Linked DNA regions of Homo sapiens. The protein of the gene in region 2 purifies or fractionates together with the protein of the main gene of each other region. This does not show direct contact. Each region holds a gene or a part of one and is shown on either strand. Other genes may lie near its edges.

Region 1 (3,600 bases), on a different chromosome or scaffold from region 2:
TAGGACATTACTTCCTTATATGTATGAAAAGGATGCGTGTTCTTACTTGGATGTAAAATTCTGGTATAATCTCGGTTAAACCAAACGTGCTACTTATGTTACCTAAATCCTGTTATACTTATTAATCTGATGATCTCTGAGAAGTTGTAATGTCTCTTACTTTTTAGTATGGTTTTGATCAAAATGCAAATCTGACCTACTTCCCCTGCCCAGCTTCCAACCCTGCTGTGGCTCCCCAGTGCCCTCAGGAGGACACCCATGGCTCAGCCAAGAATGCTGTGCTTTAAGAACAAAAAAGCTCTACTGGGGTGCCTGCTGGCTGCTCAGCCCTTCTCATGACACTCTCTAAGCCCCACTACTTCTATTACAGTTACACTAAACTGAAAAGGGAAAGGTTTTGCTTATAAATATTCTTCCTGCCAATAATATTCCCACTCACCCCTTGCCTAACACTTCATTGCCCCTTGGGTCTCAGCTCACAGGTCCCTTTCTCCAGGAAGCCTTCCCTGGGCCTGGCTGGGTCAGAGGGCTCCCCTCTCTTAGCACTGATCCCACTGCCTGGGCTTCCCTGCTTCCAGCGCTGGTCCCCACTGGCTCTCCTTCTCTAGTGATGTCTCCATTCCCTCCTCCTCTGGACCAGGAGCTCCCTGAGAACCCTGGGTCTGTTGGTGTGTCCCCAGCATTGCCTGCCACAGGGCTGAGCCAGAGGAGCTTCTCAGTGGTAAATTTTCATGGAATGAACCAGGGGAGAGGCCCCCACATCTCCAGGAGGGCTCCCCAGACTCTTCTCCAGGATTTCTTGATGCTGAGAGTGCACACACACACACGCATGCACACACACACCTTGTCCCAAGTGCCCCTGTCCCCCATGACACACACCCCCATCTCTCTCTCCCACAGCTGTGGCCCCCCAGAGGGCCCCTATCCTGCGTCCAGCCTTCGTCCCCCACGTGCTACAGAGAGCAGGTGAGGGGCCAGGGTCATCATCCCTGCCACATAACTCCCCCCAGGCCCTGGAACTCCCCACTAACACCCTGACAGATTCCGCTCTCTCCTCTGCAGCAGCCGGCCCCCGCCCTATGGCCCTACGGCCCCCTCACCAGGCCCTCGTGGGCCCCCCTCTGCCTGGGCCCCCTGGACCACCCATGATGCTGCCACCAATGGCTCGGGCTCCAGGGCCCCCGCTGGGCTCCATGGCTGCACTGAGGCCCCCTCTGGTGAGTGTGAACAGGGAACTAACGGTCAGATGTGCGGTGGACGGGGAGACCATCCATCCTGGCCCAATGGGCTATGTCTGAGTTGGCCTCTCTCCTGACTTTCTGTTTCTCTACCTTCTCACTCTGCCTTTGTCTCTGTCTCTTTCTGCATCTTTCTGTGGCAAAATCTGTTCTCTCCTTTTGTGAAGGGAGTACAGAGAGAAACATGCTATTGGAATATTTCTCTTTTGATTGTTACTGATGTTCTTGTCTGTGGCTGTCTCTCTCTGCCTGTGTTTCTCCTTCTCTGTGTTTGTCTGGCTGGAGACTCTCTGCTTGGGTGTCTCTTGGCTGCTCTCTGGCCCCCAGGCCCTTTCTTTGTTGGATGGAATGGAGATGACAGTAAAGTCTGAGCCTGTGAGCCGGCCCCCCTCATGCTCTCCTCTTACCCACAGGAAGAGCCAGCAGCACCCCGAGAGCTGGGCCTAGGCCTGGGGTTGGGCCTGAAAGAGAAGGAAGAGGCAGTGGTGGCGGCGGCGGCTGGGCTGGAGGAGGCTAGCGCGGCTGTGGCCGTGGGGGCAGGAGGTGCCCCAGCTGGCCCTGCAGTCATTGGGCCCAGCCTGCCGCTGGCCCTGGCCATGCCATTGCCCGAGCCTGAGCCCCTGCCCCTCCCGTTGGAGGTCGTCCGCGGCCTCCTGCCCCCGCTGCGCATTCCTGAACTCCTGTCCCTGCGTCCTCGGCCCCGGCCCCCTCGGCCAGAGCCACCCCCAGGCCTCATGGCTCTTGAGGTAAGCAGGGAGCCTAGCGGTGAAGGGACAGAAGGGACGGGGGGCAGACAGGAGCCCAGGAACTTCCACACAGACAGACCGGACAGCAGGAGGACCTGGGGGAGGGAGGCGGACACATGTGCCCCACATCCAGAAGCACATCCAGCCCTTACTGTGGTGGCAGGAGGGCCGGGGACCAAAGGACAGTGGGAGACCCCAATACCAACCCCTTTGCACCTCTCCCCTTTCCTCTGCAGGTCCCAGAGCCCCTGGGTGAAGACAAGAAGAAGGGGAAGCCAGAGAAATTGAAACGGTGCATTCGCACAGCGGCAGGGAGCAGCTGGGAGGACCCCAGCCTGCTGGAGTGGGATGCAGGTAAGCTGCTGAAGCTCGAGGTCAGGCGTGGCTCGGCCAAGGTCAGACCAGGCTGCTGTCCTTGGGCTGCAGACTGGGAGGGTGAACCCTCTCAGTAGGGTGGGCGCTGTTGTTAGCCCACCTTGGGGAGGGGAGGCTATGGCTCAGGGGCTGGTTCTTCACCTAGCCATGGGCCGGAGCTTGGTGGAGGTGACGGGGACATGGGGCTTTGTAGCCTGTTTTACTCATGAGGTGCCTGGCTTCAGAGAGCATTCTTTTTTTTTCCCAACTCTTAGGATAAAAATTTTTTTTTTTTTTTTTTATGAGACAGAGTACCACTCTGTCGCCCAGGCTGCAGTGCAGTGGCGCAATCTTGGCTCACTGCAGCCTCCGCCCCCCAGGTTCAAGTGATTCTCCTGCCTCAGCCTCCCAAAGTGCTGGGATTACAGGCATGAGCCACTGTACCTGGCCGGGAAAAATTTTAAACACAGATGGCACAGTAAACACCCGTCTACCCACCACCTAGATTCTGCAATTAACATTTTGCTGTGTTCACTTTTTTCCTCTTTGTGTATGTATCTGGTTTCTTTGTTTTTAGCTCAGTCATTTGAAGCAAGTTATAAGTGAATTAATCACTTCTAAATATCTCAGTATTTATCTCCTAAGAAAAGAGATATTTTGGCCAGGCACGGTGGCTCACACCTGTAATCCCAGCACTTTGGGAGGCGGAGGCAGGTGGATCACTTGAGGTCAGGAGTTCAAGACCAGCCTGGCCAACATGGTGAAATCCCGTGTCTCTAAAAATACAAAAAAATTAGCCAGGCTTGGTGGGAGGCACCTATAATCCCAGCTACTCGGTTGGCTGAGACAGGAGTATCGCCTGAACCCAGGAGGCAGAGGTTGCAGTGAGCCGAGATCAGGCCACTGCACTCTAGCCTGGCAACAGAACAAGACTCCATCTCAAAAAAAAAAAAAAAAAGAAAAGAGATACTTTTTGCATATCATAATACTATTATCAAGTCTAAGAACATTAACTAATTCGGTATCTTCTTTTCAGTTTATATTCGTATTTCCCTAGGTGTCCCAAAACTCTGTTAGAACTATTAATGTTTTTGCCCTGAACCAGCATGCATGCAGTTTTATGTCCTTCAATTATATCTTTTTTTTTTTCTTTTTTTTTTTTGAAACGGAGTCTTGCTCCATCGCCCAGGCTGGAGTGCAGTGGCGCAATCTCGGCAGCTCACTGCAACCTCCACCTGCCAGGGTCAAGTAATTCTCCTGCC
Region 2 (3,946 bases):
GGCGCCATTGCACTCCAGCCTGGGCAACAAGAGCGAAACTCCATCTCAAAAAAAAAAAAAAGACACAAAATAATTATAAATAATTAAGTTATGATTATGTCAAATGCTACACAGCAGTATAGAATGTTATTAGAATACTGCGTGCTGCACATTTGGTAATTATTATTATTTTTTGAGACACAGTCTTGCTCTGTTGCCCAGGCTGTAGTGCAGGGGCGTGATCTCAGCTCACTGCAACCTCCTCCTCCCAGGTTCAAGCGATTCTCCTGCCTCAGGCACCTGAGTAGCTGGGATTACAAGGGCGCGCCACTACACCTGGCTAATTTTTGTATTTTTAGTAGAGACGGGGTTTCACCATGTTGGCCAGGCTGGTCTCGAATTCCTGACTTCAGGTGATCCACCTGCCTCTGCCTCCCAGTGTTGGGACTGCAGGCGTGAGCCACCGCGCCCGGCCTTCATAATTCTTTTTAACTGAAATTGGGTAAATAAGTAGACTGTAGACTCCTGCCCTATTTTCAAAACTGCAGAAGCATTGCTAGCGTCTTATTAAAATTAAATCACTTCTCGGTAACAAGAATTGGACCGGGCACACAACAGATGTCATACCTTAGAATGAGTACCAAGCTCTTTTTCATCTTTAAGAGAATCTGTGTATTACAAATAAACATTTCCATAAACCAATATTTGACCACGGCAAGTGTGTAATACTTTCTGGATCACACCCATTTTCACATGCTGTCGGCTAATCAAAAACAAAAATCCCCATTTTGGGTATGGCTTTATTTTCTAAAGCGGGCGTTACGGGGGTAAGAATTAACAGAGACTTCCTCCTCCATGTCAAGCATGAAGCGTGGTGCTTTGAAACCTGCAACCTGACTTGCTGTGCACAACGCAAGAGAAAGTTACGATCTAACCTATTATAAGCGTCACATCAGGAAACAGGTTTCTCTCGACGAAACTAAAAATAGCAACTCCGCCCACTCGTTCTCAACCCCTTTAGCCCGCTTTGTTTTTCTCCAGAGCACTCATCCGTCACTAGTATTTTTATTGAATATTCAATGACCCTTTCCTTCCTCCCAGGCCTCCAGGCCGTAAGCATCGAGAGAGCCTGAGTCCCCGCGACCGCGTATGGCAGCGTCGGAGTCAATCCGCTGGAACGCCTGCCACAAGATGAAAAACAGCCAAGAGGAGCAAGGAACAAAAAAGACTGGTTCCGATCCCGGTGAGGGTCACTTCCAAGATCGGCCTGGCATTACCTGGTACTGGGACAGGGCGGGCTCTTCGCCGCCGCCGCTGGGGCCCCGAAGGCGAACGACTAAGAAGGAGCTGTCTTCTCCGTCCCACAGGAAAAGCTCTCCGCCGAGGCCAAAGACCACGTTTCTCGTCAGCAACTGCGGCGGCGGCGACGAAGGCAACGACGAAGAAGCTGGTTTCTCAGCTTCGGTTGGACTCTGGTTTTTCAGTCCCTCCCGGAGCCGCAAGAACACGACGTGGTTAGGAAGCCAGGTCTGCCACAGCTCGCCGTCGCCCACCGGTCCCTCGGCGGCCGCCATCTTGGCCCAACTGCTCCCCTCACTCCAGTTGCTCAGCCCGCCGCTGAGCACAGCCAATCCGCGGCCGTCCACTCACTGTTTCGGCCAATCACCGAGCAGACGGCCCGGAAGCTCGAGAGGCTCGTGCCAGGTCGGGGGGCGAAGGCGAGGCCAGCCCACCAAGCAGGGGCGTCACCAAGGGAAAGCCAATCACCATTATTTCTGAAGCCCAAGGGGGCGGGACGAGAAGTCAACATAATGGTGGTGCTGCTGGAAATCTAGCACCTGGGGAGAGCCTGAGACTTGTGTATCTAATTGCCTATTGGACACCTCCATCTGGGTAAACCCAGGCATCCAGAACTTTCCCTCAAGACTTACCTCCCTCAGTGCAGGTCGGGCTGGCCTCACGCATTTCGCTTGGATGCCTAAATCTGTCTCCACGTGGGGCCGGTCGATAAAACAACACTTCCCAGAATACGCTGCGATCCATTCGCGGTCTGCACCCGGAAAGTACACCTCCCAGGGGTCTGTGCGCGCCTCCAGGGAACGGGTCTTGTGGCTTTGTCTCCCGCGAAGAGGAGATGGCGGAGTCGTTGAGGTCTCCGCGCCGCTCCCTGTACAAACTGGTGGGCTCGCCGCCTTGGAAAGAGGCTTTCCGGCAGGTGGGTATGGGGTTTGTGCAGTGGTCTACCCTAGATCGTCCCGGTGACCGCCGTCTTCCCTGCCTTCGCCTTAGCCCTGCTCCGTGGAGCAGGTGCCGCAGCGCGCCTGGTCTGGTCAAACCCAGGCCTGCTGACTGTAGAGTGTGGGATTAGCCCGGGTCGGTCAAGTCCTAGAAAGCCTTGTTTTTGGATTCGATTTTGTTTTGAATTTAAATTGTGGTCAGGACATCACCGTTTGCACCTCTGCAATAACACTACCTACTGTTGCTGCGGAGGTGGCCACCGAGAGAGGCACTTTGTCTACGTTCGTCTTGTGAGATAGAGATGATTTCTATTCTAGAGAGTAGTAAAATGAGGCTTAGAAGAGGGCTCCACCTCAGTTCTGGCCTCTTCTGAACACAGTGTGGTTATTAGTAAGTAATGTCCAAGAAAGTAACCCGACGCAAGAAAGATAGCAGATACAGCAGAGTTTCTCAGCCTTGACAATGGACATTTTGAGGGAGATATTTATATGTTGTGGAGGGTTGTTTAAGCCACGTCTCGGGCCTCCACCCACTAGATGCTAATAGTCCTATAACTAGAATTGTGACAACCAGAAATGTCTCCAAGCATTGCCAAATGTTCCTTGGGGGACAAAACCTCCCTGAGTTCAGAAACGCTGCTGTGCAGGAAGGCCGTTACCCAGCCATATCTAGAGTAGCAAGAATTTGGAAGGAATATAAATGTTCTGTAATAGGACATTGGATGCTGAGATATTATGCACACAACCATTAAGGAAACTGGCAAGCTAGAATAAAAAATATGGTTCTTTGTAAATACGTGTACAAAGCATTGTAATTTTATGTATCTCTACAGAGGAATATGCAAAAGTAACACTAGTTAGTATTATCATTGAAATTTTGTGTCTATAAACTTTCTTTAATGTTTTCTCAACTAATGTAAGAGTGTTTTTTAAAAATAGAAATGCTTTTTTTTTCCCCCCCAATCTTGCTCTTTTTTCCCAGAGATGCCTGGAGAGAATGAGAAACAGCCGGGACAGGCTCCTAAACAGGTACCGCCAGGCTGGAAGCAGTGGGCCAGGGAATTCTCAGAACAGCTTTCTAGTTCAAGAGGTGATGGAAGAAGAGTGGAATGCTTTGCAGTCAGTGGAGAATTGTCCAGAAGACTTGGCTCAGGTCAGGCTGGGCTATGTGTTTTCAGGGAGGGGGACTGCACCACCAAGAACGGCTCGTGTCCTCTTTTATTTGTTTACTTGAGTCCTCTAAACCCACCATTCCCCTAACCCCATTTAGAATTCAACAGCCTTTAACCCAGGCTTTTCTACACTTAATGTTAGACTTGTCTAGATGAAATGGTCTGAAATACCAGACCGTAGACCTGCTCATCACTGCAACATCATCATTTATGAAACTAAAAAGAAAGAAATTTCATTTCTTGCCTCCACCCTTGGAAATTATGATTCAGTAGGCATAGGCTAGGAATCTCTTTCTCTCCCTCTCTCTCGCTCTTTTTTTTTTTCTGTCTTGCTCTGTCGCCCAGGCTGGAGTGCAGTGGCAAGATCTCGGCTCACTGCAACCTCCACCTCCTGGGTTCAAACGATTCTCCTGTCTCAGCCTCCCAAGTAGCTGGGATTACAGATGTGTGCCACCATGCCCGGCTAATTTTGTTTCTGTTTTAGCAGGGATGGGGTTTCACCATGTTGGCCAGGCTGGTCTTGAACGCCTGACCTCTAGTGATCTGCCCACGTCAGGA

Evidence for each region. The genes of interacting proteins can lie anywhere in the genome.
Region 1: the proteins of NUP88 (region 2) and RBM42 fractionate together in Homo sapiens (co-fractionation; 2 studies listed by BioGRID). This does not show direct contact.

Annotation. Positions count from the first base shown.
Region 1 is NC_000019.10:35,632,036-35,635,635, forward strand, and holds part of RBM42 (RNA-binding protein 42), read left to right. Parts: intron 1-900; coding exon 901-966; intron 967-1,041; coding exon 1,042-1,217; intron 1,218-1,651; coding exon 1,652-1,984; intron 1,985-2,220; coding exon 2,221-2,338; intron 2,339-3,600. UniProt on the Homo sapiens protein: Binds (via the RRM domain) to the 3'-untranslated region (UTR) of CDKN1A mRNA.
Region 2 is NC_000017.11:5,418,098-5,422,043, forward strand, and holds the start of NUP88 (nuclear pore complex protein Nup88), read right to left. Parts: upstream 1,566-3,946; 5' UTR 1,554-1,565; coding exon 1,257-1,553; intron 1-1,256. Other genes in the region: RPAIN (RPA-interacting protein), read left to right, coding at 2,114-2,194, 3,199-3,369. UniProt on the Homo sapiens protein: Component of nuclear pore complex.